Homo sapiens: one gene and its partners. The protein of the gene in region 5 purifies or fractionates together with the protein of the main gene of each other region. This does not show direct contact. Each region holds a gene or a part of one and is shown on either strand. Other genes may lie near its edges.

Region 1 (3,500 bases), on a different chromosome or scaffold from region 5:
AACAAATCACAGAATGTCTGATATAGCTATGGGATTGGGTTTTCATGATTTCTGACTCAAATGAGAGTATCTTTGTGTAGGAGCGGCTAATCTATTCCAGCCACACCCCTTTAAAAGTAGCACAAAGTCTTGTGGTTAGTTGCTCCACTATCTTGACACTGGAACAGGATTATTTGACATTCTTTGAGGAATACAAAGAGGAGATATATACAAGAGGAAACTGATGAAAGGGTCATAAATCCATGGGTGCTTAGTTCTTCAAGGTCGTGAGAATTTGAAATGGGTGATAAGACTTGTCATTTCTGATGTTTTCCCTTATATAGGTTTTATTTTCTGTAGCCTTTCCTATTATAGATGCATCTTCACTCATCTTTTCCCTCTGTGTAAGAAATTTGTCTAATGGAAGTTAAACTGTATACCAGATTTCATTGAGATTTGATAAATTCTAAGACTTAGGCTTTTTAAAATTAAGAATACTACATCTCTTCTGCATTTTGTTTCAAGAATTAGCCAGGTGTTGAATTTGGGGTCTGTCTCATTAAATAATGAAGACAGAATTTATTAGTCTGTCTCTTTTGGGCTGTTGATTCCGTTGAGATTCTGCTGCACGCACTGGACATCTGCTTAGAAAACATAGTTCCACAGAATTTTGCACTTAATTTGTGATTTCCAGCCTTCCCCTAATTGAGTCAAGCTCATCTTATGGACTTCTACATTAATTCAGTTTTAAGGAAGAGCAGGCTGACCTGTGAAATGCTAAACACTTCTGTCTTAAATCAGTTTTAAATACTTTCAACAAAGACTTCTTTGTGGCTGTTCTTTGTATTGGGGGTATACATGCAGTGGTGAAGGATCAAGACATCTTCTCTGACTTGTGCCAATGTCGAAAAGAAAAAGAACTGGCCAGGCGTGGTGGCCTGCACCTGTAGTCCCAGCTACTTGAGAGGCAGAGGCAGGAGGATCACTTGAGCCTGGGAAGTTGAGGCTGCAATGAGACATAGTAAACATAGTAGTGTCATTGCACTCCAGCCTGGGTGACAGAGCAAGTCTCCGTTCCCCCCCCCCCCCGCCCCACCCACAAAAAAAAAAGGAAAAAAGAACTGTGTACAATAATAGAGAATCATTGGGTGGTAGAATCAGAGGAGGTAGTGGGGACCTACTTAGGTGTAAGGGAAGGCCCCTTAGAGGATGCCTGGATGGGGGGTCAGGGGAGGGAGAATAAGGTGTTTCATATAGAGAGAACTGGGAAGGGCCTGAGGCTGTGAAGAGCACAGTGTGTTTAAGGAACTGAAACTGTGGACAAGAGGGGAGAATGGCAGGGACTGCATAAGGCAGGCCCTTGTACTCAGTGATAAGGAATTTGGATTTTAGTGGAAATATACTAAAAGTTTTTATTCGGGGGTGTAGCATCATCTGAATTATATTTTAAAAGATCATGCTGACTGCTGTATGAGCAAAAAGAATACTGGGGGCAAGTGGAAGCAGATACGCTAGTGGATATGCAACAGTCCAGGCAGCAGACAGCAATGGCTTAGATTAGCGAGGTGGCAGTAGGATAGAGAGCAGTGGACATCTGTGAGAATTTTTTAGGTGGTAGAAATACGAAGGCATAAATAGGGTTGGATATGGAACATAAGGGAGGGGAAAGAACTCAAGGATGTTGCTGGAAGTTGCCACTATTGGATGGTTGGAAGAGGAGTGGATTTTGGGGGGGATTGTTTCGTGGGAGAGGTAAGGGTGAATTCAGCAGTTCCCCTTTTGTCTATCTTAGTTCTCAGAAGCCTGTAAGATTGTCAAGTAGGCCTGTTAGAGAGATCTATACATCTTGAGGAATTCAGAGATACTTGGCTTAGAGATGTCAGTTTGAAGATTGTCACTATGTTAGTGATACTTAAGGTAATGAAATAATTGAAGAAAAGATTATAAAGAAGAGAGAAAGATTGACTAGAACTGGAATCCTGAGGAATGCTGAACATTTCTAAGTTGGGTAAACTGGAAGGCTTCTTGGAAGGACGCTAGGAAGCACACAATCAGAGTGGTACAAATTGGGAATGTGTAATATATAGTATTATCATGTCGTGGATGCCAAATAATGCAAGTATTTCAAGGGGGTGGGTAGTCAGCTGTATTGAATTTCACTGAGAGGCTGAGAACATGTGGGCAGGAATGTGGCCATTGGATTTGGCAACCTGGAAGTTATTAGTAACTTCAGTGAGCCAGTTTCATGGACTAGTGTAGATGGATGCCAGATTTGAGTGATTTGAGGGATAAATGATGGCTGAGGAACTAGAGACAGGGTGTATAGATAGCTTTTAAAGAAGTTTACCTATGAAAGGGAATAGATACAGGGTAGAAGCTAGAGATGTATGAGGATATAAAGGAAATCTTTTTGTTTGTTTCTTTTTGAGTGTGAGAAATTCTGCAGAATGATTTTAGTTGTTAGGATTGCTAAGATAAGGGAGATGAGAAGTCCTTGAGAAAGCAGGAGTGGTCAGGATCCTGACTGCACAGAGTCCTTTGATAGGAAGGGGATACTTCTTCAGTTTTTTTTTTTTGTTTTTTTTTTTTTTTTTGTGATGGATTCTCGCTCTGTCGCCCAGGCTGGAGTGCAATGGCCTGGTCTTGGCTCACTGCAACCTCCGCCTCCCGGGTTGAAGCGATTCTCCTGCCTCAGCCATCAGAGTTGCTGGGATTACAGGTGCCTACCACCACGCCTGGCTGATTTTTGTCTTCTTAGTAGAGACAGGGTTTCACCATGTTGGCCAGGCTGGTCTCGAACTGCTGATCTCGTGATCTGCCTGCCTTGGCCTCCCAAAGTGCTGGGATTACAGGCATGAGCCACCGTGCCCGGCCACTTCCTCAGTTTTAACAGTGGGGAAGAAAGAACAACATGGTTACAGACGCAAGTAGGAATATAGATTTAGTGGGTGGAATATAGATTTAGTGGGAGGATGTTCTGGCCTAATGGCTTTTATTTGTTTTCTACAAACTGAGGCAGGATTAACAGTGTAGTAGTAACATAAAATCTTAATATGAAAGTAAGAAAAAAATACATTCACATTAGCTTCAAAGAGGCCTAACATACTTGGGAATAAACTTAAGAAAAGAGTCACCAAGATTTTTGTATTTAAAACTACAAAACAGGGCTGGGCACAGTGACTTATGCCTGTAATCCTAGCACTTTGTGAGGTTGAGGCGGGCAGATCACTTGAGCCCGGGAGTTTGAGACCAGTCTGGGCAACATAGGGAGACCCCTGCCTGTAAAAAAAAAAGATAAAATAAATTAGCTGGGTATAGTGGTGTGCACCTGTGGTCCCAGCTACTTGGGAGGCTGAGGCAGGAGGATGGTTTAAGCCTGGGAGGCAGAGGTCAGGGAGGCAGAGGTCAGAGAGACCCGAGATTGCGCCAATGGACTCCAGCCTGGGCAACAGAGCCAGACCCTGTCTCAAAAAAAAAAAAAGAAAAGGAAAAGAAACAAATAATTGGGCTTTATTAAATAT
Region 2 (4,171 bases), about 28 Mb from region 5:
GTAATCCTATTTGGCTGATTTCCCTCCATATTGTAAGTTTTGAACTTTTCTGCCAGTCTTTCTCCTATTTGTGTTAACTCATGGAATTCCAGTTGTCTAGCCTTGAAATTGTAGGCTCTTCTAACTTGAGCAAAATCTGACAGATCAGCAAAATAAGGAGAAAAATATTTCTTCTTTCTTTCTGGCTGCATTAAATGAGATACAGCTCAGCACCAAAAAGCTATCTTTGTAAATGTTCTTAGTAAACTCCCTGGTCTTTGGAGTTATTTCAGCCTTTGAGAGTAATTCTTTAAAAGTCTAATTCTGACTGGTTGAATCTCTCTATATGATTTATTGCCCTAGTAATATTTGAAACAGTATCATATTTTAAAATATATAAATATTTATGAATTTTTGTTCAGCCCAAAGAGGATTACTGATGCTTTCTTCTTTTTCCATATGATGAGGAAATGTTTAGCTTATATATTTATTGCATTTCTGTTTTAAATAAAAAATTGAGAGTTTGTGTTTCATTAAACTGAAAAAAAAGGTTCTGTAAAATAAATGATTAAATGGAGGAAAAGGAGAAGACTGAGGCCAGCAACTCCATGATACAGCCAAAAATGAGCCAGTAAAAGATTAAGCAAGATTAACTGTAAATTTTTTTTTTTTTTTTTTTTAAAGAGAAAAGGTCTCACTGTGTTTCCCAGGCTGGAGGGTAGTGGTGTGATCATAGTTCACTAGAGCCCTGAACTCCTGGGCTCAAGTGATCCTCTTGCCTTAGCCTCCCATTGCTGGGATTATAGGCATGAGCCACTGTGTCAGGCTTAATTGGGTTTTGATGGGTACCTGCCTATCTCTGTAATTTGGCTCTAGTCATATAGGACCTGCTTCATTAAAGATCTGAAAATCTATCCAGCCATTGTAAAATGAAACAAAATGTTTTGAAAATTTAAATTAGCCTTTTATTTTAGTTCAGACATATAGAAAAGTTGCAAGCATAGTACAGAAAGTTCCTATATACCCCACTTAGTGCCCTCCTTTTTAAAATTTTTTTAAACCTAGCTTATTTCCTTTAAGATTTCTGAGAATTCCAGGAATGCTCACAGATCTGTCCTTGTAGTCTCCTGCCACTTCTTGCTATGGAGTGCTGTACCAAGGTCTCTGCTAGTTTCTAGTTGGCTTGACATAATGACTTTCCTAAACTTCTTCTGCTCTGAATCTCAAGCATGGAAAGCGGTCACATCTTTTGTTTCACGAATTAACAGTCAACACCTGGCCCTACTTTTAACAAAACTTAGTAAAGCCTTGAGCATAGTGAAAGACAAATATTTAAATTATATATTAGCAGGAGGCTGAGGTGGGAGGATCATATGAGGCCAGCCTGGGCAGCATAGCATGACCCCCCCCTCGAGAAGACAACAAAAAATTATCTGGGTGTGGTGGTGTGCTCCTGCAGTCCTAGCTATTCCAGAGGCCGAGGCGAGAGGATCGCTTGATTCCAGGAGTTCAAGGCTGTAGTTAGCGATAATCGTGTCACTGAATCCTAGCCTGGGCAACAGAATAAGACCCCATGTCTAACAAAATAATAATAAAACAATCAAAAGTTTAAAATTAGTTATTAAATGTCAGTGTGCCCAGAGTCCTTTGACCACAGATGATCCTGATGGCCTTCTCTCGCCTTGTCCCTGTGCCTCCTTCTACCATTTTTCTTCCTGAGATTCAAAAGTAAGTAGCGGACAGGGTTCCCATTTACCACTAAATACTTCAGTGGGTGTTTCCTAAAAGGACATTTATAGTACCATCATCAAAATCAGTAAATTAACCCTGATACTATTATCTAATCTGTAGACTTTATTGAATTATATCAGTTGTGCCTCAAGTGTCTTTATGTTTTTTTCTCAAAAGAGAAAAAGTTCTGGTCCAGGATTTGATCTAAGATCATGCATTGTATTGAGCTTTCCTTTCTTTTAAGTCTCATTTAATCTGGAGATGTTAATCTGTCTTTGTCATATCTTTGACACTATTGAAGAGGACTGGCCTATTATTTTGCAGAGTATCTGATTTTGGGTCATTTCATGTGTTCTCATGATTAGATTCAGGTTATGCATTTTTGGCATGAATTCCATAGAAGGGCTGTTACGGTTCTCAGTTCACGGTATTAGAAGGCACTTGATAGTGATTAGTTCCATTCCTGATGATGTTAACTCTGATCATTTGGATAAAGTGGCGTCTGCCAGGTTTCCCTACTGTGCAGTTACAATTTGCTTTTTGTAATTAATAAAGTGTGTGTGTGTGTGTGTGTGGAGGGGGGGTGTTTTTGCTTCTGAACGCATAATATTTGAGATTTTTTTCTAATTAAAAAGTAATTATTCAAAGAGTTCAGAGAACTGATACTGATCACATTCTTTGACCCCACATGCAAATACATTATAAACTAGTAATAAAACGGTAACTAGAAAAATGTTCATATCTTTTGGAATTAAAAAAGTGTTTAACTCGTGGATCAAAGCAGAAATTCTGTAACCATTGTCACAGCAGGTTCTAACAAGCAAGTTTAAGGAGGAGAGAATTTCAGTCCTAGAGAATTTCAGTCTTATTCAAATGCTTTCCTAGAAAGAGGAAACAGTTCCTAACTAATTTCATGAGGCTGGCATAATCTTGATAACAAGTCTGATAGGTAAAGTATGAAAGGAAAATTGCAGGTCACTCAATTATCACTCAAATATCTACATGAAAAATTCTAAACAAAATTTTAGCAAACAAAATCCAACAATTTGTAAAAGTGATAATACACCACGACCAAGGTGGTTCAAGTCAGGAATTCAACGTTGATTTTGGCGTTAAAAAATCAATCATCAGGCCCAGTGAGGTGGCTCACTCCTGTAATCCCAGACTTTCTGGAGGCTGAAGGAGGAAAGATCCTTCAGGCCAGAAGTTTGAGTCTGCACTGAGCTGTGACTGCATCACCGCACTCTAGCCTGGGTGCCAGTTTGAGACCCTGTCTCCAAGAAAAAAAAATTAATCAGTGTAATTCACCACAGATTAAGAGTTCAAAAGAGAAAAATCACATGATCATCTGAATAGAGGAAAAAGCTTTTGATAAAGTTCAACATCCATTCATAATAAGGACTCTCAGCAACTTAGAAGTATAAAAACACTTTTGGAAATCAACAAAGGGAATTTACAGCATGAACAAACAGCAAGCCAGCATGGTGGCTCACACCTGTAATCTCAGCACTTCCAGAGGCCAAGGCAGGAGAATCACTTGAGCCCAGGGGTTAGAGACAAGCCTTGGCAACATAGCAAGATCCTGGCTCTACAAAAAATAAAATAAAATGAAATAAAATTTAAAAATTAGCTGGGTTTGGTGGTGTGTGCCTGTAGTCCCAGCTACTGGGAGGCTGAGGTGAGAGGATCACTGGAGCCCAGGAGGTGAAGGCTGCAGTGGGCTAAAAACAACCAGAACAACCCCCCAACCCCCTCCCCGCAAAACACTATAAAGAATAGCAACACAAGGTTCAATGTAAACTTTGATATGGTGTTTTACCTCTGAGGAGAGGCTTATTGTTAATATTCTTTAGCCGTGTAAGGGGTTCACAGATGTTCATACTTTTGTTCTTTATACCTTATATGTATTCTATAAATATTGTTTCTACTCAATAGTTAATAAAAACATAATTTAAAAGTTCTGTGAATGTTTTTACTCTGCTCACTTTTGAGGGGCCTTTTGGGATATGCATTTTCTATTCCAAGTTGATCTGATATGTCATGCCTGCCACACACATTCCCATGGGAACAACTTCTTAATGTCTTTTGTTTCTGCCTTGGAAGCCATCCTGGTGCTCTGGGAAAATCCCTGCACTAGCATTTTCTTTTTCTTTTCTTTTCTTTTTTTTCTTTTTCTTTTTTTGAGATAGAATCCCTTGCTCTGTCTTTCAGGATGGAGTGCAGCCGTGTGATCTTGGCTCACTGCAACCTCTGCCTCCATCCAAGCGATTCTCATGCCTCAGCGCCCCCACACCCTCCCCAGTCCACCACAGTAGTTGGGACTACCAAGGCGCGCACGACTATGCCCTCTCACCATATTGCCCTGGCTGGTCTCCAACTCCTGAGCTCAGGCAATCCACCCACTTCGGCCTCCCAAAGTGCTGGGATTATAGACGTGAGCCACCGCACCCGGCCTGCGCTA
Region 3 (3,500 bases), on a different chromosome or scaffold from region 5:
TCTCCCTGACAGCTTACATTCCAAGTCATTCCATACCATACCGCTCCACTCCACAGTTTTATAAACCTGATCTTAAGATGTAACTAGGTACTATGTGTGCTCACAATAAAAACTAACTAAAAACAAATCAGAGGGTAGCAGACAAGTAAACAAAGTTTCCAGTAAGGCATCAGGAGATCACTGCTGGTGGGCCCCTCACTTTACCAGCTTAAAGAAGTTTTGATTTTTATTTCTCAGCAAACTCAATATTCAGAAGCTTTACCAGCAGACTCAAGTCAAAGGTTTTAAATACAGTTTACCTCATTTTTTTTTTTTGGTAAATATTTCATATAAAACATGAACTCAAGTTCTACTTCATTTAAAAAACTGAATATTTTAATAGTAAAAATATATGTTTATATTTCTCTTTTTAAAAAGACATTTAATAACAATACTTCATAAGACTGGATTTAACTCCCCCTCCCACTCTTCCCCCCACCCCCCACCACAAGTTGTCCAGGCAGAGATACATTAAGGCAAAGGCTCCTGGAGAGGTACGTCCACCTTGGCTGTGGGCTGGAGACTCAAGGTGAACACACTCTGCTCCTTGCAGGGTCAACAGAAAGGCTTCTCCCTCATGTTCACTGAGCCATCCTGCATCCCAAAGTAGACTCTCTCAGCCATGTTGATGAATAGGCCTGTGTCCACCACACCTGCAGGACAAAGGACAGAAAGAAACATTGTTTCAGCCTCCCAAAGCAAAAAGAGACTCAAAGACTGCAGGGTCACTAGAAGCAACTGTCATACACAGCATTGGACGAATGACAAATCTAAAGCCTTTTTCTCCCACAGAGCAATGAAAAGAGATTCTGATTATCTTAATTTCTTCTTGCCACCTCTTTCTCCCCTCCCACTTTGGCCTTCTTTCTGTACCCAAACATGCTAAGCTTTGTCCTGCCCTGAGGCCTTTGTTCATGCTGTTCCCTCTGCCTGAGCCAGTCATTGTCAAGCACTTCAAGGGGCTGGCTCAGCTCTGTCCTTCAGACATATCAGATGGCAAGTCATCCTCTAGAGACCCTCCATGACTACTCCAGCCAAGGAGCCCCACTACCAGTTATTTTCAATCATACCACCAGCCTTGAAAGATTTCCTCGGAATGGGAGGAGATATTTGCAAAGCATATACCTGACAAAGGACTCATATCAAAAATATAAACAATTTATAAATCATCAAGAAAAAGACAGAATCCCCATAGAAAAATGGGCAAAAGACTTGAAGAAGTACCTCACAAAAGAAGCTACCCAAAATGGCCAATAAACATTTTAAAAGATGCTCAAAATCATTCACTGAAAGGAAATACAAATTAATATTACAAGATATCACTACACACACACTGAAGTCAGTGTAATGAAATTCTGCTGGGATGCAAAGACACTCATACGCATTGATGGTGAAAGCTGAGCTGGCAAAAGCACTTTGGAAATGTTCATCTTCCAAGCTGATGGATTCACACCTAACCACTCAGCAATTCTACTCCTAGATATACAACTGTTAGGCATACATTTGGTCATCAAAAGACATGTGTAAGATGTTGATAGTGGCACTTTTCCTATTAGCTAAAAACTGATAATACCCAAATGTCCATCAAGAGTAGAATAGAGGCTGGGTATGGTGGCTCATGCCTATAATCCCAGCACTTTGGGAATGAAGCCCAGGAGTTCAATGGAGCTCCAGATGGAGCTGATGGAGCCCAGGAGTTCGAGACCAGCCTGGGAAACATAACATAGAGATGGCAGCTCTACAAAAAATACAAAAATTAGCCAAGCATGCTGGCACATGCCTGCAGTCCCAGCTACTCAGGAGGCTGAGGTGGGAGAATCGCCTGAGCCCAGGAGCAGAGGTTGCAGTGAGCCATGATTATGCCACTGTACTACAGCCTGGGTGACAGAGCAAGATCCTGTCTCCAAAAAAAGAAAGAAAGAGAAAAAACTAAAAGAGTAGAATAGATATAAACTTTTTTTCACACACATACAGATGATGGAATATGATTCAGCAGTGAAAATTAACAACTACACACAACCTTTACCAAGAATATTTACATATACTCACACATACTTCAATGACATAACACTTTAACTGTAAGAGAAAAGGTATAATGGACCAGGTATGCAGGGAAACAGATACCTGCACACACTGTTGGTAGAAGGCTAAGTGAATACAAGCTACAGACGGCAATCTGAAACCATCTAACAAAAATCACAGACACATTAATCCTTTCATCCAGTGATTCCCTGCTAGCAAAAATCTGCAAACATAAATGACCACTAGTGGTGATCCAGTTAAGTCATAATGTTACATAGGTAAAGTGGAATACATGCAGGTATTCAGAAAAAAAAGGAACAAGGAAGCTCTTTTATAAGCCAATGTGTAATAATCTCCAAGACAGGCAAGGCAGGAAACAGAACATGTATAAAGCAGGCTACCGCTAGTGTAAAAAGGGGTGGGGCGGGAGGAGTTGCAATTTGTGTGTTTATGAAAGTCTATCTCAAAGGCCACACAATTTTGGTAACACTGGCTGCCTCCAGATAGGGTAACTAGTTGGTTGGAAAAGTGGCAAAGAGGACTTGCCACTGTTTAACTCATAATTTTAAACTACACAAATTCAAAAGGATAAATACAATGAAAACTTGCAGGAAAATGGCAATAGAAGACAGGATTAATGTGCAGCACCCACTTGGACAGACAGAACAGTGTGTGGAGACACACATTGTGAACTTTTGCTCCAAGAACCACCACAGGAACATACCAGGAAAACCAAAAGAATTCACAGACCCTTTGAAAGAAGTGGCTTGCTGCTGCAAACTCCATAAGACAGCCAAAAAACTGTGAGTTCCCAAAGTGTGAGAGGGGGAAAAGTCTGCCTCTGAACATACATCCCCACCGGGGAACCTGAAAAATCCAGATCACAGGAGACGGATTTAATCTTACCTAGAGCTGAAATGGATTTAGAGAGCTGAGCAAACTATAAAAGTAGAAGCAGCAGCAGGAAGAGCCCTGTAGACACTTCCAGTCCCCAGCTTGAGCCCAGGGAAGCCATCCCTGGCTTTATCTCACAGGGGTCCTTCGGGAAAAAAAGGCAGCCAGCAGAACTGGGGAGGGGCCACAGGATGAAGGAAGCTTCTAGCTGAACTTCGTAATAATTTCAACTGAGCACAAATTTTCCTGAGCAGAATCCGGTGGGGGACAAATGGGAAGTGCAGATACAAATGAAGAACCCACAGCCGAAGGTGCAGGCAGGCAGGGAGGGGCGAGGCCTGAGAGGCCTGCTTGCTTTCTCAGTAGGGAGGCCTGTAGTCTGGGGCAAGATCTCAGCCCTGCTCACCATGGTGGGGCATGGCGGGAGTGAAACTGGCCTTGCTGGCTGTGTGGCAGCTGGGTGGGGGTCTGTCACTGCCGGCTTTCTCCTACTTCCCTGGCAGCCTGTATGACGCAGAAGAGGCAGCCATAATCCCCCTGGGAAC
Region 4 (3,500 bases), on a different chromosome or scaffold from region 5:
GTATATACATCTGCATTAAAAGTATACTATCAGAAACGCATTTTGGTGCTAAAAACATATTCATAGGCAATATTATTGCATGTGAAAAACCCAGGTGAAATAATATACCAATTACTAACTAAAAGCTATATTCACTTCTGGATGTTCTTTAAGGAGTTTTAAAAGACTCTTTGTTAGAACAGAGTTTAGAAAGCAAGGCTAGGGTAAGCTGAGAGGGGAGGGAGAGAAAGATGGTCCAGATCAAAGGAACAAGAGGGTACCACTTTCCATCTTTCACCTGACTCTTCTAAAATTGTATAGCCATACTCTTTAGTTTATAAATATAAGCTACTCCCAAACTTTCACTAAAAAATTTTAAAGAAAATTTTTACCTAAAAGAAAACAATTGTGGTGTTAACCCCCACATTCTACAACCTCTTTTATATTAACAAGTAACTCTGAAAAGATGCATTCAAGTTAAATAAAAAAGCCTACTTATTAATTAAGGCTGATGTCTTAACTGACTTTTGGTAAGTCTAATTGCCATAATTTAAAATTTAAAAGCTTCACTCAAAGAACACAAATATTAGCGACTCAGAAGGCAATCTTTTTTCATTATTGTAAGACAAAAGGAAATAAATTAACAGTGAAAAAATGAATGTTGACGAAGACCAAGCAAGAATAACAACAGATTAGCCACAAGTCATTCTTTGAATAAAGAGTTCTTTATAATATGTTTTCAAAGAGCTTTCTTGGTAGACAAGCTACAACAGCATGTTATGAAAAACAATAACCACACACTTTTTGTATCTCCTAATACACTGCAGTGCTATACAACTTTGTGATGATGCAAATGTTCTGTTTTGTCCAATATGGTAGCCAACAGCCACATGTGACTACTAATGAAATGAACTTCCAATTTTAGTTAACTTAAATTTAAATAGCCAAAAAAGGCAATGGTTACCCTCTTGGCCAATGCAATTCCAGATTTCATATACTTGGTTATATATAAGTATAAATCTAAATTCTTAATAATTCTCTTTCACAGAAGGAAAACTTAAATAAACTCTCAGTTCTATTGCCTTCACTACACCTCAGTATATTTAGACTGTATGGACACGGTGGCTCACGCCTGTAATCCCAGCACTTTGGGAGGCTGAGAGGAGAGGATCACTTGAGGCCAGGAGTTCGAAACCAGCCTGGTCAACAAAGCAAGACCCCATCTCTATTTAAAAATAAAAAAAGTTATTTTAAATACTTGTGTACAAAGGGATACAGAAGTATATCTTCTGCACAAATGGCCATTATCTTTTGGCACTTAAGACATTCTTCTCCCTTTGGAAATAATTTTACTCAAGTAACCAGAGAATTCAGAAACCATGCAAAAATAACACCAGTCCCCCGCCTCCCACAAACTTACAATTTAACCAAATTTAAAAAGTAAGTACCATTCCCTATTACCTTTGCATAAACAAGGACAAAAAGATATGTTTTAAAAATATAAAACATATTTAACTAACCATCTCCCCAACAAAATGAAAAATAACCTTTTATATAACTTTCTAAACTATACAAATTATTCATCAATAATTGGCTCAGACACAGGTCTGTAAGAATGTAGTATTGTAAGACATTTTTAAATAGAGAGTTTTTAAAGACAGCTATTTTAATACAACATTCACTTAAGCATATTTCAGAAATATAAGAAATAACTAAACAGCAAAATAACTTATCTCTGTGTAACCAAATAGCAGTAACATTCATAACTACCTTGAGTAGTGGGTGGGAAGAAAAAAACTGTGGGGAAAAAAAAATTCACTGGAAACTTTTTATCTATACTCCTGAAAAAAATTTCCTGTTGTTTGACATAAATGTTATATTTTCATGTAGTAGCTTTCTAATTTTTGTAAATTTCCTTTTTAAAACTTAGTAATCTTAACACTTAAAATCGATTATATTATAAATGACATCAGTAGAAGTATTCTTACCTTTATTTGACTTTGATGGTTTATTCTTGATAGGTTTAAGGGAACTTCTTGATTTGTCCTCTCTATCTTTAATAAGTTTCTGAACATCATCCAAAGACAGTTTTTGTAGCACAACTACAGGCTTAGCTCCTTTATTTAGATCTTCAACTAATCCTATTTTTTCTACTTTGTCTTTCGGCTCTCCTTTCATTTCCATTTTCTTTGTCTCCTGAGTAACATTGCCATCTTTATCCCTCTTGATTTTCGGAATGACAAAATTTTTCAACGCACCAGACCTGCCCCCCAACAAATAACTTGGAAATTCTGCCTTATTGTCAGGGTGTGCTTTATTAGTGTCTACTTTACTCTTGTTACCCTCTGTCCTTTTGTCATCTTTACTAGTTGGTGATTTAAAACCAAGTTTATCAGATCTTGATTTATTAGAATCTCCTTGTTTAACACGAGGACTGTCAGGTCTTGATTTTTGTTCCCCAGAAGATGGTCTTTCCCTTGAGTCCCCTGATTCATGCCTGTGTTTTCGTTCTAGTTTATCAGTTTTTGAACTATCAGATTTAATGCCATGTTCATTTCTACTAGAGGATCTCAATGTTTCTGGTCTTCGAACCCTAGACTGATCCCCTCGATGTCGCTCTGATTCACCCCTGTCATCTGATTTTTGTTTATTATCATGGTCACGTCTTAGTGACTCAGAAACAGATCGCCCATCAGGTCTCTGCTTTAAGGCTTCAGCTCGTTCTGATTTTAACCGAGGTGAGTCAGATTTAGTATCTTGTTTATGTTTAGACACTTCAGGTTTTTTCTCTGTAGATGGCTTTCCAGAATCCCTCCTATTGTCATGCCTGTGTTTTGGTGTTTCAGGTCGCCCTTCATTTTTTTGCTTTGGAGTTTCAGGGCGGCTCTCACCTTTTTGCTTTGGAGTTTCAGGCCTTCCATCACCCTTCTGTTTTGGGGTTTCAGGATGCCCATCACTCTTTTGTTTTGGAGTCTCAGGCCGGCTTTCACCCTTTTGCTTTGGGGTTTCAGGCCTTGATTTTGTTGTTTCTGATCTGCCATTATTTTGTTTGTTGTCATTTGGTTTTGTGTCAGACAGTCTATTTTCATTTTGTTTAGGCTCAACTATGGTGCTCTCGTTTTGTTTGCATTCAGTTGTTCTGCTCTCATTCTGTTTAAGTTCTTCTGTTTGGGTCTCAACTTTAGTTTCTAACTTATTTTCACTTGATTTTGTCTCCACCAATCGGTTTTCATTTGGTTTAGATTCTGCTAATCTACTTTCACTTTGTTTCATTTCACTCTTTGAAAGCTCAGGATCAGACTTTTTTTTAGGTGTCTCAGGATGGTTTTCTGGTGTAGATTTAAGACTTCCAACAATATCTTCCTGAAGAACAGAAACAGGTGCATCATTACATTGTTTGATTTCTTCAGGCTTTTTTATGGAGTCTGAATCCTGAGTTATAGAAGCCTGAGAGTCCACTCTTCCTGCCTGATGAAGATCAATGCTAACCATTAATGCTGGCCTTGACCCATTTCCCGTAG
Region 5 (3,500 bases):
TCCTATTGCCCCCTTCCCCAGATTGATTTGAAGTGGGAGTGGTTGAAAGACGGAAGAGTTGTGTGTAGTATGGGGGGGGGTTCACTACACACCAGCTTATCCCTGAAATCCCCATAATGGCACACCCCCATCTGCAAACAATGAAAGGAAAAGGGTCAAGAAACAGTATTAGGCTGAAAAGTCAGGGTCTTTATTGTGTGTATGCGGGTGAATCGGTTTGTAGCCTCTCACTTGGTGGAGGGGGACTCAGTTGATTGCTATGGTTGTTCTTCTCTATTAAGTCCCAGGGTTGGTGATGGTATTGGAATGAATCGGTTTGTGCTTTTATGTACCTTAGAGCTTGGGCTGTCAGATCAGACCTGGATTCTAATTCTAGCTCTGTCACTTAGTGGCTACTAGGACTTGGAGAGGTCAGAACCTCTCTGAGCCTCGTATGTTAATCTTGAACATTTAAATATCAACACCTACCTTGAAGGCCGCTGGGAGGAAAAAAATGAGATAATTTATGCAAATCACTTAGCACAGTGCCTGGCACAGAATGAACACAGAATGAGTGCTTGTTGTTATGAAATACTTTTATTATTAAATGGTGTTAGTTACTAGTTTATTATTATTGCTGTGGGTCTGCTCCAAACCAGCGGTAACCGTAGGAGTTTGTTAAGGGGTAGTGGATAGTTTGTGTTAATTTGGAGATTGGGGTTAGGGGGCTGGGGATTAGCTTCAACTGCTTTGTGCATTTTATTTGATGAAGGCTTTAGGCAGATTTGTATTGCTTTCTTTAGGATTATTTTTTTTTCTCTTGGACAAGAAATAGCTAAGACTATTCCGTGGGCCTTGAAAATAAAATAATTGTATTATGGTTCTTGATTTTGAAGCAAGACCCCAGCCCCCTCCCGTGTTGATCTCTGGAGCCTTTCGTTTTGCAGAGGGACTCCACAGTTTCTCTAGTGGGGACAGGGCTAGGCTGAGGGGTGTGTAAAAGGTTGGGGTGGGTGGGTGGAGAGAGACTAGTGCTGGGGGCTGGGGGGGCGGGTAGTTAAAGGAAGAGACCGGAAGGGAGGAGGAGGGAGCCTGCTGGTGGGGAGGGAGGGAGGGGAGGAGGAGGTGGAGGAGGAGGAGGAGGAGGAGGGAGGGGGTTGGGGAGAGCCTGCTACAGTTCTTTGTTTGACTCCGGGACTCAGGGACGGGGAGGAGGAGGGAGGGAATAGAAGGGGGAGGAAGCCCCCCCCCCCACACACACACAAACACACACACCCCAGCTGTTGGACAGATGAATTACAGCCTCCGGCTTGGGGCCAGGGCTGGTGAGGGATTAAAGCTCTGGGGCTGGCCCTTTAAATGGCTGTTAGCCCCTCCCCCACTCTGTTGTCCAGACACCCCTCACACACCCTCTGACCCCCTAGGCTTCCCCCTCACTCCTCCTCTTGGTCTGTCCTAAAGTCTGCCCACTCTGCTCTCGACTAGCCCTTTCCTAGTCCCTCCCCCCAGCACAACCGCAGAACACAGATGCCACAGACTATAGATACACACTCTCTGCTCCCAGGTTATGAGCCTCCCTGTCCTGGAGAGTTCTAGCCTGAAGCTCCCTTCCCGAGCAGAAGGGCCTTGCCTGCCTGACCTCTACCACCTACAGCTGACCACTACCCTGGCTTAGGAAGGAGGCCTTGGTGGGTCACAAATAGCACCTCCCTGGGGGCAGTGTCATCAGCAGCCACAGAAGCTTGCGGAACATTGCATCATGGAGACTGGGGGCTAGAGGCCTGAGTCTCTGAGGCAAGGGGAAGGATGGGGGCCGGAAGGCTAGGGAATATAGAGATTAGATTGGGACCCCAAGTGTTTGGGTCCATAAGGGCAGAGAACTATGATTAAGGGAGCAGAAAACATAGGTCCCTGAGGAGCGAGTCTGAGGTGAGGGCCAACTTAGCTCTGACCCCTGATGGACACCTGATTCTTGGCCTTGGACTTATGCTAAAAGACCTAGCTTCTTGTCTATGAGGGTTGGGAAGGGAGTGGGCCTGTATCACCTTCTTAGGCCACATAAGAGGAAGGAGGTGATGGGGAAACAGGATATTGCCTTGGGGTTGGCAGGGAGGGGAGGCTTGCAGTGGAGGCTACTTCCAGGCTTAGGCCCAGAGTCAGAGTTCTTGCAGGGGAGGATGGCCCCTCCCTGTTGGGCCCGTTCATCTAGTCTGGCTACCTGTGCTGCTAGCCAAGACCTGCCTGCACCCGCCTGGGGGAAGAAGAGGGGGCAGAGTCCAGAGGGTGGGGTTGACTGTCTGGTGTCTTGATAAGGTTGGAGAGGACACAGAGCTGAAGGAAGAGGGTCTGCATGCCCTGGTGCTAGGACTCAGGCTGGCTTGTGTACAGATGTCAGGGCAGCTGGGGCGACTCAGGCCAGGGAGTCTCAGCAGGAGCGTCCTGTCAGAAGAGGGATCACGGGTTTGGGGTCTACTGTAGACTTACTCAGATGCCATATCATGGCCCCTTACCAACTGATCGAGCCTGCTTCCCAAAGGGGAAGGTTGGATGACCACTTTGGGGATGGCTTTTTCTGGTTGCCATGGAAACAAGATTCTCCCATCATATCTGACCACCAGAGCCAGGTTTCTCCTTAATGAGGGGGGCAGGGAGCCCAGGAAAATTCTCCATCCTGGAAGACCCCCACCTCTAACTGACTTTTTTCTTTTAGGTTCCCCCCAGGGCAACATGCCAGCCCCGTAGCACTGCCCACCCCACCCACTGTGGTCTGTTGTACCCCACTGCTGGGGTGGTGGTTCCAATGAGACAGGGCACACCAAACTCCATCTGGTAAGTCCTGTCTGAGTGACCCTCTCTCCTCAGCAGTCTAACTCTGCACCACATGGTTGGAGATGCTCGGTATGATCTGGATCATGCCCACTCTTCAGAATGGTCCAGTCCAATTCTAAGCACCCCACCATGTGGTGCTTGAGTGGTTCAGCCCTCCTGGTTTATGGACCTCCCTTCTATCTCCTATAAATGGTTCAGCCCTGTACTTCACCAGCCTCTCCACTACTACCAAAAAATCTTTTCCCCACTATCTCCCTAGTGCTACAACTCAGTTGCTTATTGAAATGAAGAGGGAGTTTGCAAGCTGAAAAGTGGATATGAGCTACCCTGGAGGAATTTTTTCTTGGTAGGGAAACAGCTTTGTCCCTATAGGAGTTGTTGAACACCCTGGCTTTTGGAGGGTGTTCAGAATTTATTTGGGGAGATAGTGGAGATCACTGCCAGCCACAGCAGTCTTGGCATTTCACCTTTCCTTCCAGATCTCTTTCAGTCCCATTCTCTCCCCACTGCACTATAGCATTTGCCCCCATACCTAAGTCTTACTCTTCTGCTTCCCTCTCTCCTTCTGTCAGTTCTCTGCCTGAGGCCCTGCTTTATTTCCCATTCCTTTGTAGGAGAAAAGGGAAGATAATCCCTAAGCCAGGGGCTTAAGTTCTCTCTGTGTTGTTCTTCCTCATTACATATGGGGTTTC
Region 6 (3,500 bases), on a different chromosome or scaffold from region 5:
GGACATGTACCCTAGAACTTAAAGTATAATTTAAAAAAAAAAGGCAAATGTAGTTTACATTAAGTCCATAACTAAAATGTTTACAAAACTAAGGGATAAATCCTTTTTTTAAATCGTTTTTAGGTACGAATGTGAAGAATCTTTTACGACCCTAAACGTAGACATTAGAAATCACCAAAATCTTCTTGATTCTTTGGAACAGTATGTCAAAGGAGATTTACTAGAAGGTGCAAATGCATATCATTGTGAAAAATGCAATAAAAAGGTACGGGCTGTCCAGTTTTGTTTAATTTTGATTACATTTAATGGATTTAGAAGAAATTGGTTTTTTTGGTTCATCCTCACAAGTCACCCTATTTTTATTTTCTCCTACTTTGGTATAGTGGTAGCAGAGAAGTAGTCAATATGATAACTAATAGAAGGTTTGGCAAGGAAGGAAAAAAAGTAGTGCCAAAGGGGCTAGGTAAATAAGATAAAAATAGGTAAATAAGAGTGAATAATTTTAAAAGTCATAACGTGATAGCACATTCTCTTATATAAGTTACACAGACACTTTCCATCTCTACCGAGAAACAAATTGCCATTGAACCCCTCAAAGATACAGAGCTGATAGAGGAAAACATTTCTCCTGTCATGTCCAGGATTACTTGTCAAGACCAAAACATTTGCTGAAACCATTAATTACTTTATTGAACCACATAAGATTTCTTTTAGACTAGTCAAGTGGCCCATAAGATTTCTTTTATCACCTATGTTATAAAACCATTTATTTTGGAAACTTATTAGCAGTTCTTTGAGAGAGATGATTCACACGCATTATAGTAATGAATAAGGTGTATCTTTGGGAGCTCCCAAACCCTTTCACCCTCAAGTCACTTGTGTTGTTTTGGCCTTATGCACCACTTAGAGAAGTCCTGAAGTTTAAAGATTGAGATTGTGGGCTGTAAAGCCATACTGCCTGCCACCTGCAGCTCCTGAGACCTGAGGCAAGTTACTTGACCTCTCTGTGATTACTAGTTTTCATCTTTTAAGGTTCAGTAGTACACACTTGAGAAGGTTGTAAGGATTCGGTATGTTTTTACTTGTGCGGCACTTAGTATATATTACCTGGCATCTGAATTACCCAACAAATATTAGCTACTCTTATTGTTATTGTAGTTCTTTGGTTTGTGCATAGGAAACCACCTTCGTGGGAACAACAGTAAACATCAAACAGGTAATAATGGCTAGATAACAATGACAGAAACCAGTCAACAATTTACCATTTGCATATTATTAATTTCAGCATTTAAATCAGCTGATAGGATTATCTTGATTATGCTCATTGTCATGTATTTGTTTATACTTAAAAATTCAGATAAGTCTTAATATCATTTAAAAGTTTGCTTGGGGTTTTTTTTTTTTTCCTGTGGATTTTAATAGAACATCTGGTAACTTTGTCTTGTTTATTTTAGGTTGATACCGTAAAGCGCTTGCTGATTAAAAAATTACCTCCTGTTCTTGCTATACAACTAAAGCGATTTGACTATGACTGGGAAAGAGAATGTGCAATCAAGTTCAATGATTATTTTGAATTTCCTCGAGAGCTGGACATGGAACCTTACACAGTTGCAGGTGTCGCAAAGCTGGAAGGGGATAATGTAAACCCAGAGAGTCAGTTGATACAACAGAGTGAGCAGTCTGAAAGTGAGACAGCAGGAAGCACAAAATACAGACTTGTGGGTGTGCTCGTACACAGTGGTCAAGCGAGTGGGGGGCATTATTATTCTTACATCATCCAAAGGAATGGTGGAGATGGTGAGAGAAATCGCTGGTATAAATTTGATGATGGTGATGTAACAGAATGTAAAATGGATGATGACGAAGAAATGAAAAACCAGTGTTTTGGTGGAGAGTACATGGGAGAAGTGTTTGATCACATGATGAAGCGTATGTCATACAGGCGCCAGAAAAGGTGGTGGAATGCTTATATACTTTTTTATGAACGAATGGACACAATAGACCAAGATGATGAGTTGATAAGATATATATCAGAGCTTGCTATCACCACCAGACCTCATCAGATTATTATGCCATCAGCCATTGAGAGAAGTGTACGGAAACAGAACGTACAATTCATGCATAACCGAATGCAGTACAGTATGGAGTATTTTCAGTTTATGAAAAAACTGCTTACATGTAATGGCGTTTACTTAAACCCTCCTCCCGGTGAGTATCAAGAGAGTTTAGCTTCTTAGTAATAAAGAATAATTTATAGTAGGCGTCAACATGTTTAAGTTCATAAAATTAATGTTTTCACTTTAAATGAGTCTAATTTGCTGGGTGTGGTGGTTCACGCCTGTAATCCCAGCACTTTGGGAGGCCGAGGTAGGTGGATCACCTGAGGTCAAGAGTTCAATACCAGCCTGACCAACATGGTGAAACCCCATCTCTACTAAAAATATAAAAATTAGCCAGGCATGGTGGCATGCACCTGTAGTCCCAGCTACTCCCTGTAGTCCCAGCTACTCCGGAGGCTGAGGCAGGAGAATCGCTTGAACCTGGGAGGTGGAGGTTGCAGTGACCCAAATTGATGGCCACTGCACTCCAGCCTGGGTGACAGTGAGTCTCCATCTCAAAAAAATAAAATAAAAAAATAAATGGGTCTAAATTAAAGTAGCCTGAGAAGGGTTCTTAACAAATTTAGGACTTCTCAAAATTAATGGAAACACAGACTTGTTTGAAAATGGGGTTGGAAAATAAAAATGTGTTTTTATATCTGCATTTTATTTATAGGGCAAGATCACCTGTTGCCTGAAGCAGAAGAAATCACTATGATCAGTATTCAACTTGCTGCTAGGTTCCTCTTTACTACAGGATTTCACACAAAGAAAGTAGTCCGTGGCTCTGCCAGTGATTGGTACATTGCTTTGGATTTTCATTCCTATTATACTAATGTTTGGTTTGCTTCTTTAATAGATTGCTTTATGTTTTTCTAAACCAAGAGAATTTTGTTTGAAGTTTGGAATATAGAATAAAAACTCTGGGTCACAATAGAGAAATCATATTAAAATAGTTACTTAGTCTAAACATGGCCTTTTGTTATTCAGAAGCTGACTTCTGCTTCTATTACCTTGTATCATATCTTTGACATCCCTGCACCAAAGACTACAAGCTGAGACTGGGGGACAGTGACTCACACCTGTAATGCCAGCACTTTGGGAAGCCAGGGTGGGAGGATTGCTTGAGCTCGGGAGTTCAGGACCAGCCTAGGCAACATAGTGAGACCCCCATCTCTTCAAAGAAGATTTTAAAAATTACCCAAGTATGGTGGCGCACACCTGTAATCCCAGCTACTCGGAAGGCTGAGGTGGGAGGATCGCTGGAGCCTGGGAGGTTGAAGCTGCAGTGAGCCATGACTGTGCCACTGCACTCCAGCCTGGGCAGCAGAGCAAGACCCTGTCTCAAACAAAACCAAAGATTACAAGATGAGACTGAAAAGTGTAAGCTACTTATGAAAT
Region 7 (3,500 bases), on a different chromosome or scaffold from region 5:
GAAGAAAAAGTAGAATCAAGTTTTAGCTCCCAAGTTTTTTTGCCTGAGGAACCAAAAGGAAGATGTTTCTATTTACCTGATTGGAAAGACCTCAGGAGTTTGAGTTTGCATATTAAATTCAAGATGGTTTATTAAACATCAAAACAAAGGTGCTGAGTAGGCAGTTGTATATATGAGCCTGGACTTTAGAGGAGAAAACTGGGCTGGAGGTATAAATTTGGGGGTTTACCAGCATACAGACAGAATTTTAAGGTGATGAGAGTATGAGATCTCTTAGAATATTTAGAAAAGAGATTTAAGGGCTGAGGACTGAGTAACTTCCATGTGTAGAGGTGGGCAAGATGAAGAGGAACCAGCAAAGAGATTCAGAAGGAATAGACAGTAAAATAAGTGAACCAAGAGAGTGGTATGCTGAGAGCCAAATAAAGTGTGAAGTACTGTGGTATAGTAGAATGAGTATGAGTTTGGGAGCCTGTCAGGCCTGATTTAGTTACTTAATTACCTGAGAGTTCATACAAGTTTCTTGATATCTCAGAGCCATAAAATAGGAGTAACACATGCACATGTAAAATACCTAGCCTAACATCTATTGCCCCATAGGTAATATTTGCCAGAAACACATTTGTCAAGTAGTTGAATATATTTTTGTGGTTAATAGTAGTCAAGAAAGAAACAGTATATTCTGACAAGTCTAATATATGAGATTCTTTTAATATAAGAACTTGGTAGCTGTACAATGCATTTGAAAGCCATGTGCAACTGAGAACCAAAATTGAATTATCAATGCACTAGATAGACAAGGCAACTGAAGTAACTTGGGTGGAGAGGTGAGAATACTGTGAAACAATCTCTATGTGGGACTTAATGTACGTCCTATACCTCATTAATTGCTGTGTCAAGAAAGACCTTTATAAAGAAAGGTTATAGCAATGTAGTTTTTGTCTTTGTTATGTATTTCCTATTCCTATAGCTAAAAATCTACTGAGACATACCAGTTTTAACATTTATAGAGGAAGAAGGCTGGGTGCAGTGGCGCACACCTGTAATCCCAGCACTTTGGGAGGCCGAGGCAGGAGGATTACTTGAGCCCAGGAGTTCAACAGGCAACAAGATAAAACCCCATCTCTTCAAAATATTTAAAAATTAGCTGAGTGTGGTGGCATGCACCTGTTGTTCCAGCTACTCAGGAGGCTGAGGTGGAAGGATCACTTGAGCCCAGGAGATCGAGACTATAGTGAGCTATGATTACACCTCTGCACTCCAGCCTGGGTGACAGAGCAGTAAATACCCTGTCTAAAAAATAAAATAAAATAGGCCGGGCGCAGTGGCTCACGCCTGTAATCCCAGCACTTTGGGAGGCTGAGATGGGCGGATTACAAGGTCAGGAGATCAAGACCAGCCTGGCCAATATGGTGAAACCCTGTCTCTACTAAAAATATAAAAGAAATAAGCCGAGCGTGGTGGCACACACCTGTTGTTCCAGCTACTCGGGAGGCTGAGGCAGAAGAATAGTTTGGACATGGAAGGCAGAGGTGACAAGTGAGCCAAGATCGCACCGCTGCACTCCAGCCTGGGCAACAGAGCGAGACTCCGTCTCAAAACAAAACAAAACAAAAAACAAACAAACAAATAAAATTGGCTGGGAGCAGTGGCTCATGCCTGTAATCCTAGCACTTTGGGAGGCTGAGGCAGGTGGATCACTTGAGGCCAGGAGTTTGAGGCCACCAGGCCAACATAGTGAAACCCTATCTCTACTAGAAATACAAAAAATCAGCTGGGCGTGGTGGCACACGCCTGTAATGCCAGCTACTTGGGAGCCTGAGGCATGAGAATTGCTTGAACCCAGGAGGCAGAGGTTGCAGTGAGCCGAGATCATGCCACTGCACTCCAGCCTGAGCGACAGAGCAAGACTCTGTCTCAAAAAAAAAAAAAAAAAAAAAATGAAACCATAGAGGCAGAGATTGTGAGAAATTAATTGTGGTTATTGCTTGAGTCTTTTCAGCATGAAAAAATTTTAATTTGTGACTATTTTCTCTATAAAGGCATAGCAAATGAATCTAAAAAGTTATATGGAGCACAGTTCCACCCTGAAGTTGGCCTTACAGAAAATGGAAAAGTAATACTGAAGAATTTCCTTTATGATATAGCTGGATGCAGTGGAACCTTCACCGTGCAGAACAGAGAACTTGAGTGTATTCGAGAGATCAAAGAGAGAGTAGGCACGTCAAAAGTTTTGGTAAGCAAATTATTATCTGGAAGTCTACAAATTTATATCAATAATATTGGAATCCAGGAGTTAGAGTCCTCAACACAGCCCTTAAATGTTCTACAGTTTTAGAGTGCTTTTCCAGTTACCATACATATCTTTGGTATAAATAGCACTTTTAGATAAAGATTTAAGCCAATAGTGTTTATTTTCTTTTTGCTTGTTTTGCTCATTTTGATTTTTCATTTTACCCCGTAGGTTTTACTCAGTGGTGGAGTAGACTCAACAGTTTGTACAGCTTTGCTAAATCGTGCTTTGAACCAAGAACAAGTCATTGCTGTGCACATTGATAATGGCTTTATGAGAAAACGAGAAAGCCAGTCTGTTGAAGAGGCCCTCAAAAAGCTTGGAATTCAGGTCAAAGGTATTGAAGAACCTCAGAAAAGTTAACTTACATGTTAGGACTTGTTTAATCAAATCTAGTCTTATGGTTTAAATGAGCACAATTACAGTTTTCTCAGTATGCTCAAGGTTGAAAATGTTTTTTATTTTTACAATTACCTCTGGTGTAAGAGAGGTCTCAGTATAAATTTTTAAACTATTGATTCTGCTAATTTAATACATAGATTGATAAATTAACATTTTCTAGCTACTGTTCAGTTCTCTTCTAGTCATTCACTTTTAAAATTATCTTTTCCTGGCCAGGCGCGGTGGCTCACGCCTATAATCCCAGCACTTAGGGAGATCAAGGTGGGTGGATCACCTGAGGTCAGGAGTTTTGAGATCAGCCTGGCCAACATGATGAAACCCCATCTCTACTAAAAATACAAAAAATTAGCCAGTCTTGGTGGTGGGCGCCTGTGATCCCAGCTACTCGAGAGGCTGAGGCAGGAGAATCACTTGAACCTGGGAGGTGGAGGCTGCAGTAAGCAGAGATCATGCCACTGCACTCCAGCCTGGGCAACAAGAGCGAAACTCCATCTCAAAAAAAAAAAAAAAAGAAATTATCTTTTCCCACTCTATTTAATGATATTTATGTACGAGGCTACCCAAGCCCTCCTCAGGTATGGGTATACAGATTATTTTGCAAACAGAAAAGCTTATTGTGGGAGAGGTAAAGATTCTATACTTTTTTTTTAAAGGGCCACTAGTAAACTTCTTAGTCCTTAATAACATTTACTTTTGTAGATACCTTTTATACTTTTTAAAAACAAGGTGCAATTGATAGTTATAATGAAATGAGGTCAGTAGTTTAATGATAAAAGTTATTGTACATATTATGGAATTAATTGGA

Evidence for each region.
Region 1: the proteins of KDM6B (region 5) and REPS1 purify together in Homo sapiens (affinity purification with mass spectrometry, with the first as the bait; one large-scale study listed by BioGRID). This does not show direct contact.
Region 2: the proteins of KDM6B (region 5) and SLFN13 purify together in Homo sapiens (affinity purification with mass spectrometry, with the first as the bait; one large-scale study listed by BioGRID). This does not show direct contact.
Region 3: the proteins of KDM6B (region 5) and RPIA purify together in Homo sapiens (affinity purification with mass spectrometry, with the first as the bait; one large-scale study listed by BioGRID). This does not show direct contact.
Region 4: the proteins of KDM6B (region 5) and NIPBL purify together in Homo sapiens (affinity purification with mass spectrometry, with the first as the bait; one large-scale study listed by BioGRID). This does not show direct contact.
Region 6: the proteins of KDM6B (region 5) and USP9X purify together in Homo sapiens (affinity purification with mass spectrometry, with the first as the bait; one large-scale study listed by BioGRID). This does not show direct contact.
Region 7: the proteins of KDM6B (region 5) and GMPS purify together in Homo sapiens (affinity purification with mass spectrometry, with the first as the bait; one large-scale study listed by BioGRID). This does not show direct contact.

Annotation. Positions count from the first base shown.
Region 1 is NC_000006.12:138,978,254-138,981,753, reverse strand, and holds part of REPS1 (ralBP1-associated Eps domain-containing protein 1), read left to right. Parts: intron 1-3,500. UniProt on the Homo sapiens protein: May coordinate the cellular actions of activated EGF receptors and Ral-GTPases.
Region 2 is NC_000017.11:35,434,596-35,438,766, reverse strand, and holds the end of SLFN13 (schlafen family member 13), read left to right. Parts: 3' UTR 1-3,671; downstream 3,672-4,171. UniProt on the Homo sapiens protein: Endoribonuclease that cleaves tRNAs and rRNAs. Cleaves tRNAs 11 nucleotides from the 3'-terminus at the acceptor stem. Does not act on tRNA(Sec).
Region 3 is NC_000002.12:88,747,173-88,750,672, reverse strand, and holds part of RPIA (ribose-5-phosphate isomerase), read right to left. Parts: intron 693-3,500; coding exon 595-692; 3' UTR 1-594. UniProt on the Homo sapiens protein: Catalyzes the reversible conversion of ribose-5-phosphate to ribulose 5-phosphate and participates in the first step of the non-oxidative branch of the pentose phosphate pathway.
Region 4 is NC_000005.10:36,984,769-36,988,268, reverse strand, and holds part of NIPBL (nipped-B-like protein), read right to left. Parts: coding exon 1,968-3,500; intron 1-1,967. UniProt on the Homo sapiens protein: Plays an important role in the loading of the cohesin complex on to DNA. Forms a heterodimeric complex (also known as cohesin loading complex) with MAU2/SCC4 which mediates the loading of the cohesin complex onto chromatin.
Region 5 is NC_000017.11:7,837,217-7,840,716, forward strand, and holds part of KDM6B (lysine-specific demethylase 6B), read left to right. Parts: intron 1-2,689; 5' UTR 2,690-2,808; intron 2,809-3,500. UniProt on the Homo sapiens protein: Histone demethylase that specifically demethylates 'Lys-27' of histone H3, thereby playing a central role in histone code. Demethylates trimethylated and dimethylated H3 'Lys-27'.
Region 6 is NC_000023.11:41,214,445-41,217,944, forward strand, and holds part of USP9X (ubiquitin carboxyl-terminal hydrolase 9X), read left to right. Parts: intron 1-123; coding exon 124-265; intron 266-1,454; coding exon 1,455-2,208; intron 2,209-2,775; coding exon 2,776-2,899; intron 2,900-3,500.
Region 7 is NC_000003.12:155,908,650-155,912,149, forward strand, and holds part of GMPS (GMP synthase [glutamine-hydrolyzing]), read left to right. Parts: intron 1-2,042; coding exon 2,043-2,236; intron 2,237-2,464; coding exon 2,465-2,630; intron 2,631-3,500. UniProt on the Homo sapiens protein: Catalyzes the conversion of xanthine monophosphate (XMP) to GMP in the presence of glutamine and ATP through an adenyl-XMP intermediate.